3 separate regions of the Homo sapiens genome follow, and all the other regions are reported to be linked to region 2. Evidence: microRNA targets listed by miRTarBase, many of them from high-throughput screens and not tested one by one. Region 2 holds a microRNA gene; each other region holds the end of a gene's coding sequence. Distances are between the middles of the regions.
What was found. The annotated mature microRNA hsa-miR-3117-5p reads AGACACUAUACGAGUCAUAU and lies in region 2 at 3,654-3,673, opposite strand. An mRNA with a match to its seed (bases 2 to 7 or 8) in the 3' UTR can be bound and repressed. Matches are read on the target gene's strand: a 7mer-m8 pairs with bases 2 to 8, a 7mer-A1 pairs with bases 2 to 7 and ends in A, and an 8mer does both.

Region 1: miRTarBase lists SMC2 as a target of hsa-miR-3117-5p. Seed matches in the 3' UTR shown: 7mer-A1 at 2,992-2,998.
Region 3: the mRNA of FOXJ3 is a reported target of hsa-miR-3117-5p. Seed matches in the 3' UTR shown: 7mer-A1 at 2,419-2,425, 7mer-A1 at 3,335-3,341 and 7mer-A1 at 4,692-4,698.

What each region holds. Positions count from the first base shown.
Region 1 is chr9:104,138,318-104,146,459 of GRCh38, forward strand. It overlaps SMC2 (structural maintenance of chromosomes 2), which reads left to right. Exons shown (of 25, transcript NM_006444.3): 25 at 822-3,102. The coding sequence ends at 998. Among named protein-coding and RNA genes, the nearest start is that of SMC2, 48 kb to the left of the region's middle.
Region 2 is chr1:66,623,983-66,632,124 of GRCh38, reverse strand. MIR3117 (microRNA 3117) reads right to left here and starts at 3,685; the gene lies at 3,608-3,685. It overlaps SGIP1 (SH3GL interacting endocytic adaptor 1), which reads right to left. Exons shown (of 25, transcript NM_032291.4): 2 at 6,215-6,278.
Region 3 is chr1:42,173,173-42,181,314 of GRCh38, reverse strand. It overlaps FOXJ3 (forkhead box J3), which reads left to right. Exons shown (of 13, transcript NM_014947.5): 13 at 1,490-4,767. The coding sequence ends at 1,605. Among named protein-coding and RNA genes, the nearest start is that of GUCA2A, 12 kb to the right of the region's middle. RefSeq lists an enhancer at 7,581-8,142 and a silencer at 8,035-8,142.

The sequences.
Region 1 (8,142 bases), not on the chromosome of region 2:
GTATAGAAGGAAAAAAGTTTCACTCTCCTTTTTAAGAAAGAGCTAGGCATTAAAAATGTTGGTTGTAGCATGAGGGAGATTCCAATTTAGTCATAATACAGAATTGATTTAGGGTTAATATAATTGTTTTCTCTAGTTAACTACCATAAAGATGTACAATCAAAACAAAACTGTCTCCGGGATATTTAACTGAGGTATCAGAAAATCATGTGACACTTGATGGGGAAATTTAATTTCTCATGGCTAAAAAGTAGAACAAAGAAAGCCTCTTGAAGCTAAGAACAGTTTGTTTTTAATGCACTATTGCTGTAGGAGCTGGGGCTGCCAAATATGCTTGCATAAATTATGCATTGTACAACTCTGGGGACTCCACTCATAGTTACCATGGATTGTGTATTTATTATAGCAGTGTTTTGGCAAATAACATTGAATGGGGCGGCGGGGCAGTGCCTAATTATTCAGAAGTTCTGTTTGGGCTAGTGGTGTGCTATAGGAACTTGAAACCTTCTTTGATATTAAAATGTCACAAGAAAAATATCTCACTAGAGCAGCTTTAGTTAGCAACAAAACTGAATGCCAGCTACAAAAGATAGCAACAAGCAGTCAACCACCAGGAAATAGTAAAATTGGGTAATGAAGTACCCAAAGTAAAATTAAGAGACTTCTAAAACAATATGGACAGCTAGCATTCATTTAGGTGCCTCATATAACTATTTAAAGAAATAAAATTATCTCCAAACCATTCTTATCACCAGTATAAAGGAGTAAACTTCAAGTATATCACAAAAAGTTTTTTTATACTTTTTTCTTTTTTCCTTAAGTTCATTGTGGTGTCACTAAAAGAAGGTATGTTCAACAATGCAAACGTTCTTTTCAAAACCAAGTTTGTGGATGGTGTTTCTACAGTAGCCAGATTTACTCAATGTCAAAATGGAAAGATTTCAAAGGAAGCAAAATCCAAGGCAAAACCACCCAAAGGAGCACATGTGGAAGTTTAAACTACAAAGTTATTTCTTCATCTTGACCTGTTTTTTTAAATGTAAACTTTTAAGGACTTGAGATAACTAATTTGTTTATATACAAAAATTAATGTTACTGTGTTACTTAACCCATGTTTTCTCTTTATATAATCACTTATCGCTTACAAATGAGCATATATTCCTCATCTCTTAACTAGTCTAATTATGGTCCAATTATTGTGGTTGTGATTTTATGCATATCATCAAATGTTTTTTTCTTATGCGGGTCTTTTATATATTAGGGATCCTGAGATACCCGATTCTATATGTAAAAGCTAATATACAAAAAAGCAGATTAAATTACATGATAAATGTAGCTGATCATCAGTGTTTAATTGATTTAATTCCTAAGGCAATATTAATGTGTTTTCTAAAGTCATTCAGGTAAGGAAGAATTATAAATCAGGTAACTGGACCAACAAAGGGAACACATATAAAGCTATTATGCATGCATGGAGCCGTTTGAGGCTAGTTTTTTAAGGCCACAACTCCAGACCCCTGATTTAGACTGAGATAGGAAACAGATCTTGAAAGAATCCTTATTTTAATGATACATGAATATCATGTTCCTATACGCTTAATAATTGGTCTCTACGTTTTAATGATACATGAATATCATGTTCCTATACGCTTAATAATTGGTCTCTACGACTTTAATGTTTTTGTTTTTTTAAGCTGTGTAAGTATTTTTAAATCAAAGCTTAGGAGGTGTGTTGCGTGGTACTATCTGCTGCAAATTTATCTGAAGTTTGTTAATATTTTCCAAGATTTTTGTCAGCCTTTTCATAATCCAGTCATTAACAACCTATTGGTAAACAAGAATGTAGGTGCCAGTAGACTAAACCAAATTTATTTTTCCCTGAGTCTGATATATATATGTATAAATATAAATAACTCAATCCATCTGTTCCACCAAAATAACTCAAAAGTTGGATGATTATTTGTCTTCCGCTTTCCAGTTCAAAGGGATGAAATTCCTTTAGAACTTGAAAGATGACACTAGCGAACACCATGAGAATACTGTCTACAGTTTTTGGTACGTCATCACTAGAACAGTGACCCCAAACTGAATCATGAAAGGTCTGACATGATGTAATCTGATCTTCCATGTGTTATTTTGGCCCCACATCTCTTCTTGATTTTTTAGTCTTATTTCCTTAGTGTTATTATCATACTTCCCCTGATATATGGCCGTACTTCCTGGCCCTGGGCTTGACATTTCCCACCCTTCATTCTCCATACATATGAGATGTCAGAAAACATGCAGTAATTGATATTATGGGACACATTGGAAAGGATTGAATCTGGAATTAGTTCTGTCCACTGTGGAGGGGAGAGGAAATAATGCTGTAAATGTTGAGTTACAGAAAGTCCAATGTCAAATATAGTTTTTTTGTTTCCTTTCAAATGTATTACAGACTGTGCCAAAACAGTTACCAATTCACACTGTCAATATTAAAGTATACCATAGTATACAAATTAGTCAGTACTTGCTGTTAATTTTAATATTTCTGATTTAACAGTTAGTTATTAAGTGGTACTTCATTGCTGTTTTAGCCAACGTTTTAAAAATAATTTGGGAGTTTGACTATTTTGGCTTACGTACTCATTTCCTTTTCTCTGCTAAAAATGTTTTGCTTGTGTGCGTTCCTGATTTTTGTCTTGTATAATCTTGATCTTTGAAAACCCTCAAACATGTATTAAATTGTTGTAACTTTTTTTCATTAGAGGGAAGACATTAAGGGGATTGGGGACATTTGTTTCACACATCTGCAGTAATATGAGTTAACTAATATTTAACAAGCTCTTTCTTTACATTAGCTGCTGTTCTCATTTGTATGTATTGTCATATTTAATCCTCAGAGTAACCTAGTGAGGTAAATACTGTTGTTGTCAGCATGGTGTAATCGAGGAATTGAGTGAGTTGAGCAGAAAAGTTAGGAAACTTGCTCAGGGTGATAATACAGTTAGGAGTGTCAGGGCCCATGGACAAATCTTGTCAGTCTCCAGAACCTAAGATATACTACGTCACTGACAGCTTGAACATTTGTATTTATTGTACAGAATAAATTTAAGAAAAATACCTGTATGAGCAGTATGTACAACGTGAATGTTACCTTAAAGAAGAACCTCAACCATGTGAAGAGAGGATTCATTGTGGTGGTGGCGGTTTTGGCATTTCAAGTAAGCTCACAGCAAATGCAAAGCAAAGACATGAAATTTTCTCTTCCAATAGGGTGGCATAATCTAAAGGCCAACATTCCCACAGATGATAAATATAGATTCTGAGCAAAATACTAGAAACAACTACCTGAGAGTTCAGGAAACTGAAGAAAAACTAGAAAGATTTTGGATGGGAGATAAAATACGGAGGAAGAGACAGGCACAAGCTAAGGTTAATGTTTTTAACCTAAGTACCAGCTATAGTCATGATGCAGCTGTAGGACAGCTAAGGCTGCAGTGGAAAGCCTGGGGTCTTTCTGGTCTGGAGAACTAAAAGATGGGATCTGGGCTAACCACAGCTTCCAGAAAGTGAAGGAGACGTCTCAGAAGGGATAAACGAGGACCTGGAGAAAGAGGTCCCCAGACTTACTTAGTAGATGAAGTCAGCGAAAGTAATTAACCCCTGAACTCTAGATACAGAACACATCAAAGATAAAGCCAGATACTAGTTAAAACAGTAAGGATAGATTTAAATCAGTAACATACTCTTGAAATAAGAAGAGTCCAGTATGAACTGAACTCAATTTTGATTTGTATTGAGGTGACTGGGTGTCTTAAAGGGAGAATGAGGGAATAGAGGAGGATAAGTGGGGGCTTAGAGTCAGGGATATAAACAGGAAAGGGAATTGGTTGATGTGAAACCCATTTAGATTTGTTAACTGGCTCTAATGCCAAGGTAGGCTCTTACCCTCCCACAGAGACTGGGACTCTACCTTCAAGTGTTGGTTGGAAGAAACAGTAAACTCAGCAACCTTGAGTTTTCTCAGGAGTTGACTTTCAGGAGGAGGATAGTCAACCTATGGATGTGGCTTTGAGCTGTTAGAAACTGCTAGTGTTTTTTTCAGATCTTTACAGGCAAAGGTTTATTTAGACGTAGAAAGGGCTCAGAAGAACCTGGCTAGAACTTCATCAAAGAGAATCTTTGTGAAAAAGACAAGCAGTTTGCAGTTTACCATAATAAAATTAAATTGTGATTTGAACTGCCACCTGCAAGACCGTTCTCCAGGTGACCTTGGACTGACCCACTTCTCCCCACTTCTCACTAGTTGTCAAAAAGAACAGCCTTGCTATCTGGTCAGGTGAATGACAACCAAGTGGAAAAAGATCTGTGTGGTTACAAGGAGTATGGCAAAAGGTTGCTAACTGGCAAGGACAAATACATGTCACCTGTGGATGCTGGGAATACCATAGCCACCTTTTAGGGAAACTTAAATTATGTTTTTGGATACCCTGTAAAACTTTGCTCTGACAAGGAACCTCCTTTACTGCCCAAGGAACATGACAGCAGGCACACTCATGGAATACAATGGGTTTTCCATGCACCCTGTCATCCTCAGTCCAATAGAGCTGTTGAACAATGGAAAGCCAGCTCACAATGAGTGAAGGAAGGACACCAAGATAGCCTACAAGTGGGGTGGTACCACCCCATCCGAATATGGCAGTATGGACACTGAGCACTGCCCTCCAGGGCAAGGGAACCACATGATTGCAGCACATGTTGAGAAGCACTGAGCTTGGAGGAGGTACAGGTGGACCAGATGACGGCCTCTGCCTGTGAAATCCAAATTCCAGTGTTCCCAGCCATTTTCTCTTTTTAGAGTGCACATCCTGTGGGTGGTTTGCAGTTCAGGCTGCCACAGTACCCCAAAAGGCCCCCCTAACTCTTAATCTGGAGTCAGCGTTTCCCTCAGGTGCACTCCCTGTGGGATCCCTCAAGGGTGGAAACAGGACCAAGAAATACCAGGATGCTAGAGTCCCTCTGATAGTGCCAGGGACATCTGATCCTTCCATTTGGCTGGGCAATGTTGTCAGACATGTCATCATTCAAGAAGTGACTTCCCTTCCTGGACTGGATGGCTGAGGCTGAAATGTCTGAGGCATTTCAAGGGTAGTACCACAGGATATGGTAATGTTTATAGTATACAGTGTGATGTTTTGATATTTGTATATGTTATGGAATGATTACCTCAATCAAGCTAATTAACATATCATCTCACATAATTACCTTTTTTGTGTGTATGGTGAGAACATTAAGATGTATTCTGGCAAATTTTAAATATATAACAGTATTAGCTATAGTCACCATGCTGTACAGCAGATCTCCAGAACTTATTCATCATGCATAACTATGACTTTGTATTCTTTGATAAACATCTCCCCACTTCCCCTGCTCCCCAGCCCTTGGCAACCACATTCTACTCCCTGGTTCTATGCGTTTGACTTTTTCAGATTTTACAAATGAGTGAGATCATTAGAGTATTTGTCTTTCTGTGCCTCTTTGATTTCGCTTAGCATTATCCCTTCTATGTTAATACATGTCACAAATAACATGTCCTTTTTAACGCTAAATAATACTCCTGTGTGTATCTTTATATCTAGGTTGACTCTAGTTTTTTTGCTAGTATGAATACCGTAAACATTTGTGTACAGGTCACAGACATCTGATCCTTCCATTGTGGTGGGCGATGTTATCAGATAGGTCAAGTTTGTTTAGGACCTGACCTCCCTTCCTGGACTAGACCACTGAGGCCAAAAGGTCTGGGTGAAGTAACAAGGGCAATGGGGCCTGCAGAGGTAGTGGCCTCAGGATAGGGATAGACAGACTGGGTTACTGCCCCAACTCAGCCTGACCCCTATCCCATAGATGGAGTCAACTCTGAGAGATCTGGATGGTTTGGATGCATAACACCTTTGTTAGGTTCTCCTAAGCTGTGGCCATGGCCACAAAGTGATCTGCCATTCTGGACCTCATTCTGTCACAGACCACAGTGACCAAGTCTTATTAATGGCATAGTTGCATTCACTCAGGTTCTCTCGTACAATGTTATTCATGAAGCCCCTACACAGAGGGCTAACAACAATCCAGTCCCTGTTTTTGTTGTTGCCATTGGGATACTTACTCATGTAATAAAAGGTGTGTCAAAGTGCCAGCCCCTCAAGGTTTTGTTAGTTGTGGTTCTGATATTTTGCCAGAGGTCATTATTTTAAAACAGGGCACCAGCATTCCTAATGCTATAACATACACCAGTACACTAACAGAACCTGAGCCTGAGCCCTGATTACTGAGTAAGGATGTATCCATAGCATGGAAAGGAGCCAGAGGTGACCAGTTTTTTTTTTTTGTTTGTTTTTTTGTTTTGTTTTTTTTGGCCTATGGATATCCAATTGCTCCAGCACAATTTGTTGAAAAGGCTGTCTTAGCCAGGCACGGAGGCTCAAGCCTGTAATCTCAGCACTTTGGGAGGCCGAGGCAGGTGGATCACTTGAGGTCAGGAGTTCGAGACCAGCCAGACCAACATGGTGAAACCCCGTCTCTACTAAAAATACAAAAAATTCGCCAGGCATGGTGGTGTGTGCCTGTAATCCCAGCTACTCGAGAGGCAAAGGCAGAATTACTTTAACCTGGGAGGTGGAGGTTGCAGTGAGTTGAGATTGCACCACTGCACTCCAGCCTGGGCAACAGAGCAAGAGACTGTCTAAAAAAAAAGTCTGTCTTTCCTCCTAGAAAAACATCGAGTTGGTTTTTTCTTTTCCAACTGTGTCAAAAATTATTTGGGCATTTTTAAGTCTACTTTTATTATAGGTTCTCTATTCTGTTCCATTGATCTATGTGTCTGTCCCTTTTCCAATATCTCACAGTCTTGATTATGGCCCTACATAATAAGCCTTGAAGTCAGTTAGATTGATTCTTGCTACTTTATTCCTCTTTGTCAAAATTGATTTAGATATTCTTGATGGATGCCTTTCCATACAAGTTTCAGAATAATCTTAACTATATCTACAGAATGCCTTGGGATTTTTATAGGAATTATATTAAACCTAGGTATTAATTTAAAGAGAATTGACATCCTTACTATGTTGAACCTGGTAACCCAGGAATACGGACTGAATGTCTCTCCATTTATTGAGATCTTTAACTTCAACACTGATTATTTTCAGTACACCATATATAGAAAGGCAACAGTCTAGAATATCTAAGTCAAGTTTGACAAAGAGGAATAAAATAGCAGGAATCAAATGTGTATGCTGAAACATTCTGTAAAACATTCTGTACATTTTGTTAGACTTACACCTAAATATTTCATTTTTTGAGCTATGATAAAGGGTATTTATGTGTAACAATAATATCCATATGTTCATCATTAGTGTATATAATTAATTTTTATATGTCTATCTTGTAACCGTTGGCCTTGCTAAACTTCTTAGTTCTAGGTTTCTTGTAGATTTTGCGGGATTTTCTACACAGACAATTATGTCCTCTACAATCATAGGCAGCTTTATTTCTTCCCTGTTGATCTGTATGCCTTTTATTTCCTTTTGTGCCTTATGGCATTGACTGGAACTTCTTAGCACTGTGTTGTGTAAGAATGGTGAGAGCCAGACCATCCTAGCTAACACGGTGCAACCCTGTCTCTACTAAAAATACAAAAAGTTAGCCAGGCCTGGTGGCGGGCACCTATAGTCCCAGCTACTTGGGAGGCTGAGGCAGGAGAATTGCTTGAACCTGGGAGGCGGAGGTTGTAGTGAGCCAAGATCGCGCCACTGCACTCCAGCCTGGGCAACAGAGCAAGACTCCATCTCAAAAAAAAAAAAAAAAAAAAGTGTGGTGAGAGCCACTACACTTGCCTTGTTCCCAAAATCAGGGAGGAAGTATTCTTTCACCTCGAAGTGTAATGTTAGCTGTAAGGTTTTGGTAGATGCTCTTTACCAAACTGAGGAAGTTCTCTTCTATTCCTATTTTGATGGCAGTTTTTTATCACGAATAAGTATTGAATTTTTTCAATGCTTTGTCCACATTGATTGGTATGATCATGTAACTTCTTCCTTAGCCTGTTAATATCATGGATTACACTGCTTGATTTTTAAATATTGAACCAGTCTTTCCCTAGAATAAACTCTA
Region 2 (8,142 bases):
AAAACTGTGAGTTGATTATAATTTCTTTTCTCTTCCAAGATGTCTCTTCACTAGGAACACAAAACTGCCCACTTACAGCCACACTGGACTTTAGGGCAGTGTAGGAGAGGTATTAGAGGTATTTTGGAAAACTGGATTACAAGAGCAGAGGGAGAAACTAAAAGGTAGCCACAGTAATTTTATAACCTCCCATTTTAATTCAGTTTTTAAGAGGCTAAAACATACAGCGATACGTATTATGCTTCGAAAGGGAGCCTCATTATTTGGAAGAAAACCTTAATAAGTGCTTGAGGTGAACTTTGATGTCTTGAGGAGTTTGGTGTGGGGTTGGAACCATTCTTCGGAAGGTGCAATCAGGTAAGAAAATTATTGCTTCATGGCAGGGAGCCCGTGAGAAGAGAGAGAGAGAGAGAGAGAGAGAGAGAGAGAGAGAGAGAGAGAGAAAGAGAGAGAGAGAAAGAGAGAGAGAGAGCAATGCAGAGAGTTGGTAGGATGCCATCTGGACTCCAAGGTGTGATTCCCTTTCCCCACCAACATCCCTTCAAAATTAGCAGAATATTCTACTTGGATTATAATACACTTGACAGAGTGCATATTTTTCATAACTAGTGAGTTCTGTGTCCACACAGATGCAGAGGTGAATCAGTGATACAGGGACAAGAAACAGAGAAGATTCTGATATTGAAAGACCATGGGAATTGACAGAAATCTTGAGACTTTTGGACATTACCTGGATGTGGAAATTAACCAGTTTGAAAAAATTTTATTTAAAATAGAATGATAGGAAGAATCTTGGCCAACAAAAGTGCTTGTAATGAGCCAGGTGATTGGTTAGGACCAAAGGATAAAAATAATGAAAACATATTAATCTCAGAGAGAATGAAATGGGTGAGTAAATCCAGTGGGTTATCATGGTCATAGTAAGCCCAGGCTAGCAGGAGAGCACTGAGGATAGGTACCAATCCATACTCATCAAAGCCAATTCTCTTTTTGTATCTATATACTGAGTCAGTCTTTCTTTTTTTCTTTCTTTCTTTCTTTCTTTCTTTCTTTCTTTCTTTCTTTCTTTCTTTCTTTCTTCCTTTCTTCCTTCCTTCCTTTCCTTTCCCTTCCTTCCTTTCCTTTCCCTTCCTTCCTTCTTCCTCTCTTTCCTCTCTTTCTTTCTTTCTCTTTCTTTCTCTCTTTCTTTCCTTCCTTCCTTCCTCCCTCCCTCCCTCCCTTCTTTCTTTCTTTCTTTCTTTCTTTCTTTCTTTCTTTCTTTCTTTCTTTCTTTCTTTCTTTCTTTCTTTCTTTCTTTCTTTCTTTCTTTCTTTCTTTCTTTCCGGAGTTTTGCTCTTGTCACCCAGGCTGGTGTGCAATGGCAAAATCTCAGCTCACTGCAATCTCTGCCTCCCAGGCTCAAGTGATTCTCCTGGCTCAGCCTCCCAAGTAGCTGAGATTATAGGCATGCATCACCACGCCCAGCTAATTTTGTATTTTTAGTAGAGAAGCAGTTTCACCATGTTGGCCAGGCTGGTCTCAAACTCTTGACATCAGGTAATCCACCTACCTCAGCTTCCCAAAGTGCTGGAATTACAGGTGTGAGCCACGGTGCCTGGCCAATATACTGAGTATTTCTTACTAGGACTTCAACTTACTAGGACTTAATATCTCCACATATGAGTAATTCTTACTAGGACTTCAACCTCTGCTAATGGAGCTGGGAGAGAAGTGATTGCATCAACTTTTGGGTAGGATGTGTTTAGAGGCACTGATCCATGTGGAGATGCCTTTGGGAACAGCAAGAAATAGATGCGGCAAAAGCTCGGAGATTGGCCTGGCTGTGGTGTTGCTCACTGTGAATCCAGGTACAAGGTCATATCAGTAGGGGATCTTAAATGGGAGGCATTTGACCTCATGCTTATTGCAGCCGTTGGGATGGTCTTCCACAATTTTTAATCAGAGAAACTGTGATTGTACATAGCAGCACTGGAGTCCTATTCTGATCCTTTGTCTTCTCGACTGATGGAAATGTGGCTCATGTGTCCTGTGGAGTCAGTCAGCATGGTGGCTAAGGGCACCGGCTCCAGTGCCAGACTGCATGGGATCAACCAATGTCGATTTCCTAGCTGCAGAAGCTTGGGCAAGTTACTTCACCCCTTTGTTTCTCAGTTTCTTCATCTATAAAATAGCCATCATAACAGCATATATCCCATAGGGCTATTAGAGGATTCAGTGGACTAACATAAGTGAAGAACCTGAGACAGTCTCTAGAACATAGTAAATGCTCATTAAATGTTTTCTAGAATAATAATTTTTATACACTATGACCCAGGTTAGGGAGTGAAGAGATTTTAGCAGCCTCAGACACTTGGGCATGTGTTCTAATTTCACTTTCTAACCCCCTCTAATGAGGTTTTATATTGTATTTTAAAATAATTTTTTTCTTTTTCATGGCAGACTTATTGTATTTGCTGACTTCTATTTTAAAAAGAATCATCTACCATGGACTTTTGGCATCTATATTTTAAAGTTTCAGTTACCTTTTGTAACTACTGTCTTTTTTTTTTACCCTCCTATCTGTCTGGATTTTAATTCTACCCATTGATATCTTTTCTTTTGGGTGATGAAAGCACAGACACTGGATTTTAGACTAGAATATGGCCTCCAAGTCTTAGTTTGTGGGTAGCCTTCAGAAAGTTACTTATCCCCCTTTGGCACTGATATTTCTCTTTAAAATTGATGTATTACTGCTAACCTTATTTAATTACTAGGAAGACTAAAAAAGATATCAGCGCAACATATGTCCTGCACAGGGCCTTCCACTTAGCACAACCTCTCTCCCTTCCTCTATCAGCTGCTGTAATGATGACCAAATCAGGAAATTCTGGTCCTAACCCCACTGTATATCTTAGGAGGTTCAATCAGCTGAAGTTGGTGCTGGTGTGTCTACCCTAGCAGGTTGCTGAGCAACCCACAGTGAGTTGTAGCAGCCCTGAAAACAGTTTGCATCAACAAGGCTTCAATGATCACAGACAAACACAAGCATTTACTAAAGCTGAAGGGACAGCAAATTGCTAGAGTGCTTTCCCAACCCCTTTGCATTTATGATTTCTTTTCTGAGAATGATATATGATCCAATTACAGAGTTCACGAAAGCATTAGGGAGTTCATGAAAAGCAAAGGCTTATACTAAACATACTAAACAGCTTGTCCTTTGACCATCACTGATGGTGGAACCAGCTTCAGCTATTTTGCTATCACGTAAGTAATTTGGGACTCTCAAATGATAAGTTAAGGAAGGATACTTGGGATTCTTTAAACAAATGTCTCGTTAGAGTACCTCAGAGAGATATTGGGCCTCTACCCGTAGCTGTGAGGAATAACTCAGTTATTTTAATAACTTTAGAAATGATGATGGAAGAGTAGTGCTTTGGCTACATGTAAATTAGTTCAGCCTGCCCTGTAGAGGTTGTTCAACCTTTTCTCTCTCGAGAAAGCTTTTTTCCATTCCAACTTTCCTCACATGCCAGAAATCTCTGGTGCAGTCAATTACAGACATTGTCTTCATTCAGAAATGGATTTGGTTTCCATTAACGATGTTCTCCTGAGATCCATCGAATAGTGTCCCACAAAACACCTGGCACTATATGAGTCCTATAATGCCTTCCCTTATATGACTCGTATAGTGTCTGGCCCTTTAGGGAAATTCGATTCCATCTAGTGTAAATTTCTTTGTTGTTGTTGTTTACAGGTGTGGAAACTGAGGCCCAGCAAAGTAAAGGGTAATTCCCAAAGCCATGGAGTTTTGGCAATGCTGGGACTACAGCCCAGGTCTTCTGATCTAGTGAAGGCATCATCACATATTCTGGGTGGTTAATGATTAGAAAATGGCAAGGGAATATAAATCATGCTGCTATAAAGACACATGCACACGTATGTTTATTGTGGCACTATTCACAATAGCAAAGACTTGGAATCAACCCAAATGTCTAACAATGATAGACTGGATTAAGAAAATGTGGCACATATACACCATGGAATACTATGCAGCCATAAAAAATAATGAGTTCATGTCCTTTGTAGGGACGTGGATGAAGCTGGAAACCATCATTCTCAGCAAACTATCGCGAGGACAAAAAATCAAACACCACATGTTCTCACTCATAGGTGGGAATTGAACAATGAGAACACTTGAACACAGGAAGGGGAACATCACACACCGGGGCCTGTTGTGGGGTGGGGGAGGGGGGAGGGATAGCATTAGGAGATATACCTAATGTTAATGACGAGTTAATGGATGCAGCACACCAACATGGCACATGTATACATATGTAACAAACCTGCACGTTGTGCACATTGTACCCTAGAACTTAAAGTATAAGAAAGAAAATGGCAAACTTCTTAAGAAACAATGTAAATTATATAATCCTCAGAAAAATATTGCTAACTTAATTATTTAGAAAAATTTGCAGGACAACAGTAAATGTAATATTCTTGAAATAAATAGTTACAAAAGAAAATGCAAAAAGAAAATATAAGAACTTAACATTTGGCATCTAGACAAAAAATAACTTTGTTCGCCCAATCCTTTGCACTCTTTGGCTTAAAAACTTTCATGGTTTCAAGGTGGCCCACTGCCTATGGAAGTAGCCCACACACTTCAGCCTGGTACTTAAGGCCCTTCCTATCTGGTCCTGGTCTCCTTTCCAGCCTTGCCTTCCATTATCACATTTACCTGTAACCCCAAGTAGACAAACTGCCCCATTTGTCTTGTCAGTAAATGCCTAGTGGACTTTACTACCTTTCCACTTTTGCTTTTGTTGTTCCCTTTGCATGAAATACACATCCTCATCTTCTTGAAGGCCAAACTCAAGTCTCCTCCCCCACCCCGAAGCATCACTGATCATCAATCCAAATATGAGATTTTTCACCCTCAAATTCCCATGAAATCCCATCTTAGTTGCTTGTAAGGAACTTACACATACTAATTTGTGTCAGTAATAATAAGAGTACCAGCAACTGCCATTTGCTGAGCATTTACTAAGTATTAGGTACCATATTAGTCATTTCAAATATGTTACCTCATTAGTTGTACAAACAATAATTTATGTAGTAGATATTTTATCTCATGAATCATAAATTCTTAAAGGACAAGGGCCCAGGGAAATACTCAGGATCTTGTGACAAAATTTACGCATGATAAAAATATACAGAATGAAAAGCTAAAGGTGAGAATAAATGTGGCTTTCTTCATTTTCACCTGTGCCCATACAACTGTTGCTTTTCCCATTTTCTAACTTTCTTTCAGAGATTCTAGCCAAATGAGGGGTATAATGGGCTTGATTCTGACGTACAGCAAACTACATCAGTTCTGCATTTCTACCTGGTCACAACCACCTGCAGCTGAATAGTTGTGCTCTCCCTACACTGGTCTTGGGCTGGAGTCTCAAGTTCCCGGCCAGTGGACTTCACATATATAAGTTACCTGCTTGGCTGCAAAAGGCAACTGAGGTTTTGTGTCAGAGCCAAATACTTCTGCAGGAGAATTCAAGATGGTCAAATAAGTGGAAGGAAGTTTGTGGAATGAAACTGTTATGTCATTGCACATTTTCAGAGTCTATCAGTGTCTGTGGGCAATTAATTCTCTTGGATATGACACTTAAATATGTAAAAGCATCCCCACAGTTGTTTCTGGCATTTGTTTCTTATTCACTGCTAAATATCCAATAATTCCTGAATTCTGTTGGTTGATTTACAATTTGGCTTGTACAAAATCTTGGCATCTCAAGTAAGAGCTTGGAGATGTTATCTAGTCTACATTTCTGTTTCTGGCTAGGTCTAATCTATCCAAACAGGTGTTTTGTTGTTTCTTTAGTTCAGATTGTAAGGTCAACCCTATATGTGGAAATGAATTATTTTTATCCTTCATAAAAGTAACAGTCACATTTTCTGCCTCCTGAGACTGCTGGGAAGTGTAATGATCAAAAAAAAAAAAAAAAAAAAAAGAAAGAAAGAAAAATGTGATAAAAACTGAACACATGATGAAAAATTTTTACCTTTTTAGCATAAATCTAAGAACTGTTTATATTGAATAATTACAATTTACTCAGAAATGAGGAAAGCAAATAGTACACAATATCCGAGAAAACTGTGGCCATCTTATATTGACTGTGATAAGAGCATCTCTTATGCAAATAGCTTCTTCGAGGAGGCAAACTCCTAAAGTACATACGTAGAATCAGTGTCCTTTTCTTTCTTCCGTATTCCAAAGGCCTTCCTTGTACGTTTTTTCAATCCTGTGGGAAAACAGCAAAGGGTCAAAAACTCTCTCAGCAACATTCAAGTGAACATATTTTGAAGGTTGTAACACACCAGTTAGACTTAAATGTTTAGAAAGCAATGAAGTTTCTGAAGTTGTATGTAAAGGTATGTGTGTCTGCATGTCCATATGATTCATTATTACATTTTTTCAATAGTTACTTATCAAGGACTTCATACCATAAGTTCTTAGCACTATAAGCAACATAAGGATATATGGATACATGGGTATAGAAAAGATTGCAAGATTTTCTTAGACTACTGTTGTTCATCACCCATATTGGGGTTCTGCCAGGAAGCCAAATCACAGATTTAGAAGAATAGCCATTTTCAGGTTAGACATATTCTTTAGACTGGGATAATGCCAAGACATGGATCATGTGGCCCATGCCAAGAGAACTGCACAGATCTGACACATCTTTGTGTCTCGTATTCCCATCTTATCTTTTACTGCTTCCTCCAGTCTGTGGCTGCATTGAATTATTAACCATTCTCTGAACACACCCCAAAATTTGCACTCCTGTGTCTCTTTCTTTCTTGTTCGGTCCTTACTTACAGTTGAAATGCTTTTTCTATTTTGTGGACGTTTAGAATTTCAATTCATCCTTTAAGGCCCAGACCAAATGTCTCTCCTTCTGCAGGGCTTCTTAATCCTAGAGGCGTAAGACACTGACTACTCTATGCTCCCCACAAAATGTTGCTCTTATATGTATTATGATATATCAAATGGTATCACCTATTAGTCCCTGTGTCAGTTTCCCTAGTAGGCTGTGATCCTTTCTTGAACAAAGGCCAAGGCTCCCTCATTTATAAGTCCAGATAATATTTGTGATTTCAAATATCTTCCAGGAAGCACCATTCAAGCAGCACTGGCTAAGAAAGCCCTTTTCTTCCATCCTGACAAGCCAAGCCCAGTCTTGGTTCTTCTGTACTTCTCTTGTCAAGGCTGTTTGTGTTTCCCATCCCTCACATGTTCCATAGTTACAGACATGCCTTGTGCTTCTGTTAGTGAGTATTATTCAAATATACTAAATGTTTATATATTCAAACCTTAGACTTATTATTGGTGGTTTGGAAAGTCTTCTTGAGAAATTGGAGCTGAGAAAGTCACTGATATTTCAAATTTGTTTGGTACTACCAGGTGGAACAAAGGGAAAAACAATGACAGATTCAGTGAGTTGATGATACATTTTTCCAAAACATGTGAGTCAGCCCAAACCACTCAGACTATCTGAGTCATTCATTATCTGCCTCTTAGGATACTACTCAAATACAATCTTCAAAATGTCTCTGTTCTGTCTAATTTTGTATTTTAATAGTCATCCATTTAAGACACTTAGGTCTTTAAAATGTCAATTTTTAAAAAAGTCCTCCCATATAAAACTATTTTCCGTTACTCTCCACATGAGGAGTTTATAGGAAAATGTATTGACATTTAAAACTACCCACCCATAATATTAAGAAACACCTTCTCCCCTTTTATTTTTCATTTTGTTTATTAAAAACTTCTTTCTCACCTCTAATTGTCTTATTCCCTTATAAGGACAAAGTATCATAGTTACATAATCATCAGTCTATCCCTACTATTTTCCTTGGTTTTCAAGTCTCCTAATTGGCTTCTCTTTGCTTCTGTTTTAGCTTCGAGCTCACAATGAATGCCATATTCAGCAATCACCACTGGTTTTTACAGGACTGTAAAACCAATGCTATTATCATCTCAGGGTTTCAAGTGCTTTACTTCCTGTAACTTGACCTATGAGATAAAAAATAGCATGCCTTACCAAATATATCAGAAAATACACACACATTCCAGTACTCTTTGTATTAAATTGGTAACAGAAC
Region 3 (8,142 bases), 24 Mb from region 2:
TTTAGCCAGCGGAATACGGCACATTGTTAGAGCTGGAAAGTATCTTAAAGATCACTTAGGATAATGGAGGCTCTGAAGGAGAAATGCCTTGCCCAGGCCACCCAGTTTAGTGAGTGGCCAGATCAAGACTCAAGCCCCAGTGTCTGGATTCAGAGTCCGTTGTTTTTCTCACATACCACACAATCCTTTACTTAGGCTATTTGAGGAAAAGACATAAAGGTAATGGGGTTGGGGGTGGATTTAAAACCTTGAAGAACTGTGTGGCAGACAGCAGTGAGGAAGGAGTTGGGATCAAGTGATATGTCCTTTGCTGAAGGGGGAAGGAATGTTAACCTGTTGTGAGTGCTTACTACTAATTTGTAAGTGGCACCATAAGGTGGTAAGGCTCTGGAGCCAGATTGCTTGTGTTTGAATCTTCATGCTTTGCCACTTAATGGCTGTGTGATATTAGGCAAGCTACCTAACCCTCCTACCTCAGCTTCCCTGTTTGTAAAAGGGGCTAATAAAACTACCTGTGTCCTCGAGTTGTTAGGATTGAATGAGAATCATGTAAATTAGTGCCTGACCCACATTAAGGAACTTATAAGTTTTTTTTAAATGGAGGCATTTTACCTATATTGTGATATACTGAAAACCTTAGCATTAAATAATTGTACAAGAAAATATTTCAGGGCATATGAGAAAAATGAGTAGCAGACTACTTGAAATTTTGTAATCAGAGTACTAAAAAAAAATCCAGTAAAACTTCCACAACAGTTAAAAGGATATGTATAATTTGTAATAAAAGAAAGAATTCTACAAGTAAATATCAACCTCTACTTTTAAAAAGCAGCTGGTTTAGAAGGGGGGGGTCTGTCAAGATACGGTGGAGACACAGACCCAATGAATCAAAATTGGGGAGCATAAACAGCACATGGCCAAACTGGTACAAGAAGAGCATGGGAAGGTGGGCATTCTGTACTCAGCTGTGGTTCCTTCTGGTTTCCTGTGTTCCCTTGTTGATGTCCTCTGTGTTCACTTGACATTACTTGGTGGCACAGAAATTAGCTTGCTGGGGAAAATTCAGTATGACGTCATTGGTGCACTGCCATCATTATCCTGTTTACCATTCTCATGGGAGCCAATTCATGTTACTGAAACAACGTATTGGAGCAAAACAGACTGTAAGAGCAGTGGCTACATTGGCACTTTTCTCGTGTCTTCCTTACTGCAGCCTGGTATAATGGAAGGAGTGTGGATCAAGTGAACTGACCTCAGATCCTATCTTTGTCCCCTACTGGTTGTGTGACTTTGGGTAATTTACTCATCCTCTTAAACCGTATCCCCTTACCTATAAAATAAGGATCATAAGAGCCACTTTTTGAAGGCTTATGGTTGAATTAGTGAGATAATGTGTGCCTGGCATATAGGAAGTACACAGTAGGGGTTAGTTTATTTCTTACTTTCTTCTCTACCCAAGTCGCTGCTATTATTGCCTCTTTCCTTCCAGGCCATCACAGAGCCATGAACCAGCAGCACATGATGCCTTCCCAAGCCTTCCAGATGCGGCGTTCCCTGCCTCCAGATGACATCCAGGATGACTTTGATTGGGATTCAATTGTGTAGGGCTTGTTTCTGCAAGACACCAGACCCTAACGTTACCTTTCTGTGCAGTGAAGGGAAAGGTTTAAGAGAATCCAGTTGAGAAAACAAACTTGCTAATCACTTTACCAATGTTATCAAAATTACTTTTGAAGACAATCAGAAGGATTTTAGCTGGATAACTTACTGCTTTTATCTGACCCAAGCAAGTACTACATGTTTGTCTCCCTGCCAGCTGCCCTATGTAGCTCCTAACTGTTGTGTGATTTGGACGGCTTTTTGCATATTTGTGTCAGTTTGATGTTAACCACAAGTGCCAGACTGATTTTTCAGACGGAGCCTATTTTGCTGCAAGCAGTTTATATAAAGATACATATGTGTAAATATATGTACAAAAATTACTGAAAGGCTTCAGTTTTTTCTAATTGGATTATTATGTCTTGAAAGTTATTGTCAGTTTTTATTCCTTGTTAGGCTATTTTCTGCAGGATGCTTTTAACTGATGTAGGAAACTGAAAGGAAATAGATTTTTTCCAAAACCCAGTTCCCCTTATTTAATCTTTTTTAGAAATGTGGGTAATGAATTCTATCTAATAAGTCAAGGAAACCAGAATTTGACACACTCCAACAATCCGAAGGGGCATGTTGCTCCTGAGCAGCATGAAGAACTGACCAAATTGGTTTTGATGCTTGGGGGATCATAGAGTATTTATGTCTGCTTTTCTAAATCTGCATTATAATAGCTCTAAAATTTGTTGATTGGTAAGAAATTGGGCATTGCTTGGCTCTTTAAACACATCAGTGCTTCCACATTCACCTATGTATTTATTATTCAAAAGTGTCATTTTAATATTTATTGCTACCTTCTGTGAATGCTTAGCTCCTGTCGGGTTCATTAAGGAGAAATGTGTCTGAAAGCACAGAACTATTATTATTTTTTTCTTTTTTTGAGATGGAGTCTTGCCCTGTTGCCCAGGCTGGAGTGCAGTGGCACGATCTCGGCTCACTGCAACCTCCGCCTCCCGGGTTCAAGCAATTCTCCTGCCTCAGCCTCCCGAGTAGCTGGGAGTGCAGGTGCACACCGCCATGCCTGGCTGATTTTTTGTATTTTAGTAGAGATGGGGTTTCACCATGTTGCCTGGGCTGGTTGCAAACTCTTGAGCTCAGGCAGTCTGCCTGCCTCAGCCTCCTAGAGTGCTGGGATTACAGACATGAGCCACTGCGCCTGGCCCAGCGTTACTTTTCTTGATAAGAATTTACAGATAAGACACTCAGAGAGACATTGTGTCATTCTCTATCATCACTCCTTTTACCATGTGAATAGATTTCTCTGTCTTGGCATTCTTGCTGATTCAGACTTATTAGTTAAATCGGATTTTTCTGGAATTTGAATCAGATTTCATTTGGGCAACAACAGCAGGGCAGGGTTTCTAAAGCAGGTTTCCCCACTCATCTAGGTTGTCTTGAAAGGAGGATAGAGCCACTTACAGTTTTATTTGCTTCAGTGTTTAATGTAGATATTATGTGGCCTGCTGTTTCTGTTGTCTTGTATGTCTGTGTATGCATGACATTTGGTCCCTTTCTTTGAAATGCAGCCCCTCTTACGGGTTTTTTAGTGGTGGTGGTTTGTTTTGTTTCATATCATATCACAGTTTGCATGGACTGATTATCTTAGTTTTATGATAAAACTAGAAGAAATGAGGGTTTTTTTTTAATGAATAGATTTTGAATTGATTCTTTAGACCCCCCAAAAAGTGTCAGTTCTAATGGGGAAATATATTCCATCAAGTCAAAGAGTAATAACTGCTCACTAGTTGCTTTTTAGCATCTCTGGTCTTATCAGCCATGCTAAATCACTTTAATTAGCCTTAGTGATTCTATGGTTGAGTAATCTCTACTTGAACTAAACAAACATCTTTTGTTTCTGTGTGTGTGTGCTGTGTGTGAGAGTGTGCGCGCGCGTGTGTGTGTGTGTGTTTTAATGGAGTGTTGCCTTGAATGAATCACTGGGAAGCCAGCCATGGTAAGGGCTGGTGAGGTTGGGGAGAAAGGAAGAGCTTTATGTTTCTCTGTTGTTTGGACCCTACTTGGCATGAAAAAGGAAGCTCAGTTCCAGCCCCTTGGATCAACGAAAATCAGAGGATTCTGGAAAGGCAGCCAACTTGCGCCTCTTAGAAGGATCAGAGGCAAGATGAGATGGCAGCCTGCAGAGTAAATGCTTGAAAAAAGAGGGGTGATTTTCAATGGTTTGCTTAAGTCACTGTTTTCTAGACACCAAAATAGCTGTTTTGAAACTGTTTTAATTGCTTGGGTAGCAATGTGCACTTTAAACAATTTGGATATTGGAATGCAGTCTCATACTGAGTGATTTGAGTAGAACCACTGATGATGATTTTATAAATTGTGTGAAGCGAATTTCCCATTTGGCAATCATTTACTGATTTGCAGTGATGAATATTTTTATGAGAATTTAAACTTAGCAAGAATGGCCATGGAGGCAAAGCCTTCACCCAGACCCATCCCACTCTCCTGTGATCCAGGTGGTCCAGGAGCCCAGGACAGGCCTTTTCTGTGGGCCCTGGCCAGACAGGGTTACCTGGTGAGGTGCAGAGAGTCCCTCTAGTGGCCATTTTGTATGGTAGTTGCTAATGCAGAACAAGTTCTGTCTTGGGCTTAAATTGACTGAAGACTTTAGGGGGAAAGAATAGTAAATGCATGTAAACAAATGGGGACACTCTGTTCAGGAGAATAATCCGACTGGCATTTGTGGCAGTTTTTGAAATGTAAATGTATTCATGTGTGTTCTTGTAAATACGTGTCGCTCAGATGTCCTTTGAAGTGGGAGGGAATCAATCCGGGGATAATTTCAAATGGAATAGAGTATTTTGATATTGTTCATTCAGAGGGTGATGTGTACATATCTATATTGTATATATGTGATGAAAATGCATTGGCTTTTTGTGCAGATACAACCTGCTCTCTGTACTGCTGTTGGACAGTCAGTGTTTTAATGTTTCTACAGTTTTGCTATTGCACGATTTCATATTTTGCCTCTATGATGAACGGCAACCATTATTTGTAACTGTTTAGTGCTGTAAAGAAATATTCCAAGTGTCATTAGGATTGTTGCTGCCAGAACTGATATGCATGAATGGCACTTAAAATAAATATATTATGTTAACTCTATTTACAACACTGATTGGTCTCCGTTGTTTGCTGTAATTGAAGAAGTGAGAATGGAGCTAGTCCAGGTGCAGAAACCCCACAGCCAGGACCCCAGAGTCCTTGGGGTCACTGAGATTGTGTCCTTTGCATTACTACCTGAGGACAGTAATTGCTGCCATTTAGTGAGCATCTTATTAGCTCCATGAACTTGGGGAAGTCACTGGATTTCCCTGGGCCTCATTTTCCTTATTTGCAGCGCCAGTACAATGAGGATAGTATCTGCCTCCTAGAGTTGTAGTGGGATTTACATAAATCAGTACATTTAAACATTTAGGACAGCACATGGGACATAAAGCATACTGGTACTCAGTATGTGCCAGGTGCTGTGCTAAGTAGATATTGTGGTCCTCCTTTTACCGACATGGGAACAGCTCAGATAGAGGTATAGAAACTTGTCTAGATTCTTCAGTTGGCAGGTGATAGAGCAGAGGTTTGAATCCAGGTCATTTGATTCCAGGCATCATGTTTTTTGCACAATCCTCTCATACTTACTGAGGGAATTCCCCTCTCCCTACCCCCTGCCCTTGCCCCATCTTGTCCCCAGCACTGCCTTCCCAGAGCTATTTCCAAAAGGTGAAAGTGGGGCTTTACATTTGCTGAGCACATATTCTGTGTTAAGCCCTCTCATGAGAAATCCAGAGATGAGGAAGCCGCAGTTCCTGCCTTTAGAGGGTGCAGACTTGCCCAGGACAGGTAGCAAATGCCAGCCCAGGGAGGCTATTCTGAAGGTATGCTCTGGTAAGGCAAGATTCTGGTGATGCGGAGTTAGGTCATACTGAGGATTGGGGCCGTGGTTTAGGAGAGGCTCCAGGTATGGGCTACCAAGTTGAGTCTTCAAAGGGTCCCAGACAGATGGGAGGAGGTATTGCCATTTATACCATTACCTTGGGCAAGGCATGGGAGCTACCTTAGCATGGGGGTTGTGGGTTGAGGCAAGAGAAGTGCAGGGCTGCTGGTCAAGAGCTGAGCGTAGCAATTCTGTGAGAAATGCTGTCCCCACTTCACTGATGTGGAAACAGGCCCGGAGAGGCTAAGCAACGGGCAGACCAGCCATGTGGCTGGAAGTGAGATTAACCTGGAGTCCCTCCCACTCTAGAAGGGGGACCTTTTCATCAATCCCATGATCTACCCAAAGCCTCAGGCTGCTGCTAACGTAACCCACACAATGCCACCAGAAACATCTTTGGCAGTTTTACAGATAGGGAAACAAGGCCCAGAAAAGTTAACCTGCCCAAATTCTCACAGCTAATAGAGGAGCTGGAATAATTCAGTCCAGACCTAACTCCAGAGTTCATTTCCTTTTACCTCACTGCTATCTAAAAAGAGGAATTTTCCCAAAGCCAAGGATAGTGACTATCCTCCGTGTGTGTGTCCATGTGTCCGTGTGTGTTCCTTGGAGGGAAAGCTGTGCTTCACTCCCATCACAGGTAAGCATTTGTCATTCGCGGTGCCTCTGAAGGACTGTAGTAAGGGCACCACTAAATGTAGTCACCTTGTGCTGATTCAGATGCAGCTGAAGTATACTTCTGCTGATCAAATGAAAAGGCGATTAAGATGCATGTGTAATTCTCAAGGTTTTAAGATACTACAGTGTGCAAAGGGCTGCTGTTTATAGATGTGACCCTTATCAGTTGGGTAAAGGAGTCCTGGAAAAACCATGTAAGCATCAGTTAACATTCACTGAAGGCTTGATAGCTTCTTGGCCTTTTGGCTAAGATCAAATGCATTGAAGGTTTGACTGCATTAAATGCCCTAGAATTACAGCACTATCCTAAAAGCTTCAAGCTGGAAGGGGCCTTAGAAATCAACTAACACAACCCCCACATTTTGTTGTTGGAGAACATTGAGACCCAGAGAGGGAAGGGTCTGCTCACGTTTCACACAGTTAGTTAGGGAAAATTTGGGGGAAGGGAATGAAAGTCATTTGTCTGGCAGCGATTTAAAATTCCTACACATACTGTCTTATTTGATTGCACAATAGTCTGATGATGTAGTACTGTTACTGCCCTCATTTTACAGAAGAAGAAACAGCTTTGGAGAGGTGAGACACAATGGAGTTGTATCATGAATGCGTTCAATCAAAGCATGTAAATTCAGTTGTATATACTTGGCCAAAGAGAGAAGGAATGGAAATTTTAAATAATGTAATGGTGGAGTATCCACCTGTGATGGACATGTGCCCCTGAGTGTGAGATGGAAGATTCAAATCTGAGTCTATAACTGGTATTTGCTTCCATGTACCTTCTGCGTGAGCATCTCATTACTGAGTCAATTCCGGTGGATAAAGAGACATGTGTTTCGTGCAGCATTGTCTTGGGTTCAAGCCAGCAGCTTCCTCCAATGCTCAAAGACAGACTTCAACCAAGAACTAGAAAAACTGGCCGGGTTGGGCTTATTGAGACATGTTTATCCACAAAAGTGCTGCCTTCCCAAAGGATTTTCAAGAGTGATTTTTGAGCTTACCTCCTTGGACTCTTCCCTTAATATATGTGACTAGTCAACATGTACAGAGCAGAGACTTGGTAGCTGACTGCGTCAGAACCAGAATTCAACCCTAGGTCAGGGCTTCAACCCCCAGCTCTCCTGCAGTACCCCTAAGCGATGCTGACCTCAGAAGTACAGAATTGGACAGCTACTCTTTATTAAAAGTTCCTGTTACTTAATATTACTTATCCTAAGCACCTGATGTGGATTATCATACTTACTCTTTGAAGTAACTGTGTGTAGTAGATACTCTTATTATCAACTTCATCTTGCAGAGCCACAGAAATGAAGTCCCTTGCCCAAGGTCATCCAGCTTGTAAGTGGCACAGGTAATAATAGCAACAGTAAAGCTGGGGTTTTGAACCTAGGCCATTCAGCTCCAATGTCTGCGCCATTCACCACCACATTGTGCTGTTTCAGGCCCTGTTCCCGGAGCGACCAGGCGGAGAATGAGGGCCTTAGAACAAAGCCAAAGCTACTTTGCAATTAGGCTGTAGTGAGTGCCTGTGGCCACTAGGGGGCGGGGCTGCCGGCTGTGCACCTTTCCTCTTTTGGAGGGTTTCCTTTACCCTTACTTAGGGCTGTGCTCCCTTTCTCTGCAGCCCCCAGATTTTGGTGCTCCTAAAGAAAGGTAGGGATTCCACTAGCCAGCCTTTAGAATCTGTGCTCCTCCTCTCCTGTGTCAGAGCTTGCTGGAGGAAGCCAAGGAGCCTGTCTAGTTCTCGGCCACATACTGCTGGGGCCCACTCTAGAGCTGCCTCTGAAGTCTGCTGCCCCGTCCCAGCCTCCTGGTGCCTATGGCTCCCCTGCTCCAGGACTCAGGTGGGAGAAGGTGCCCAGTGTCAGCCCCAC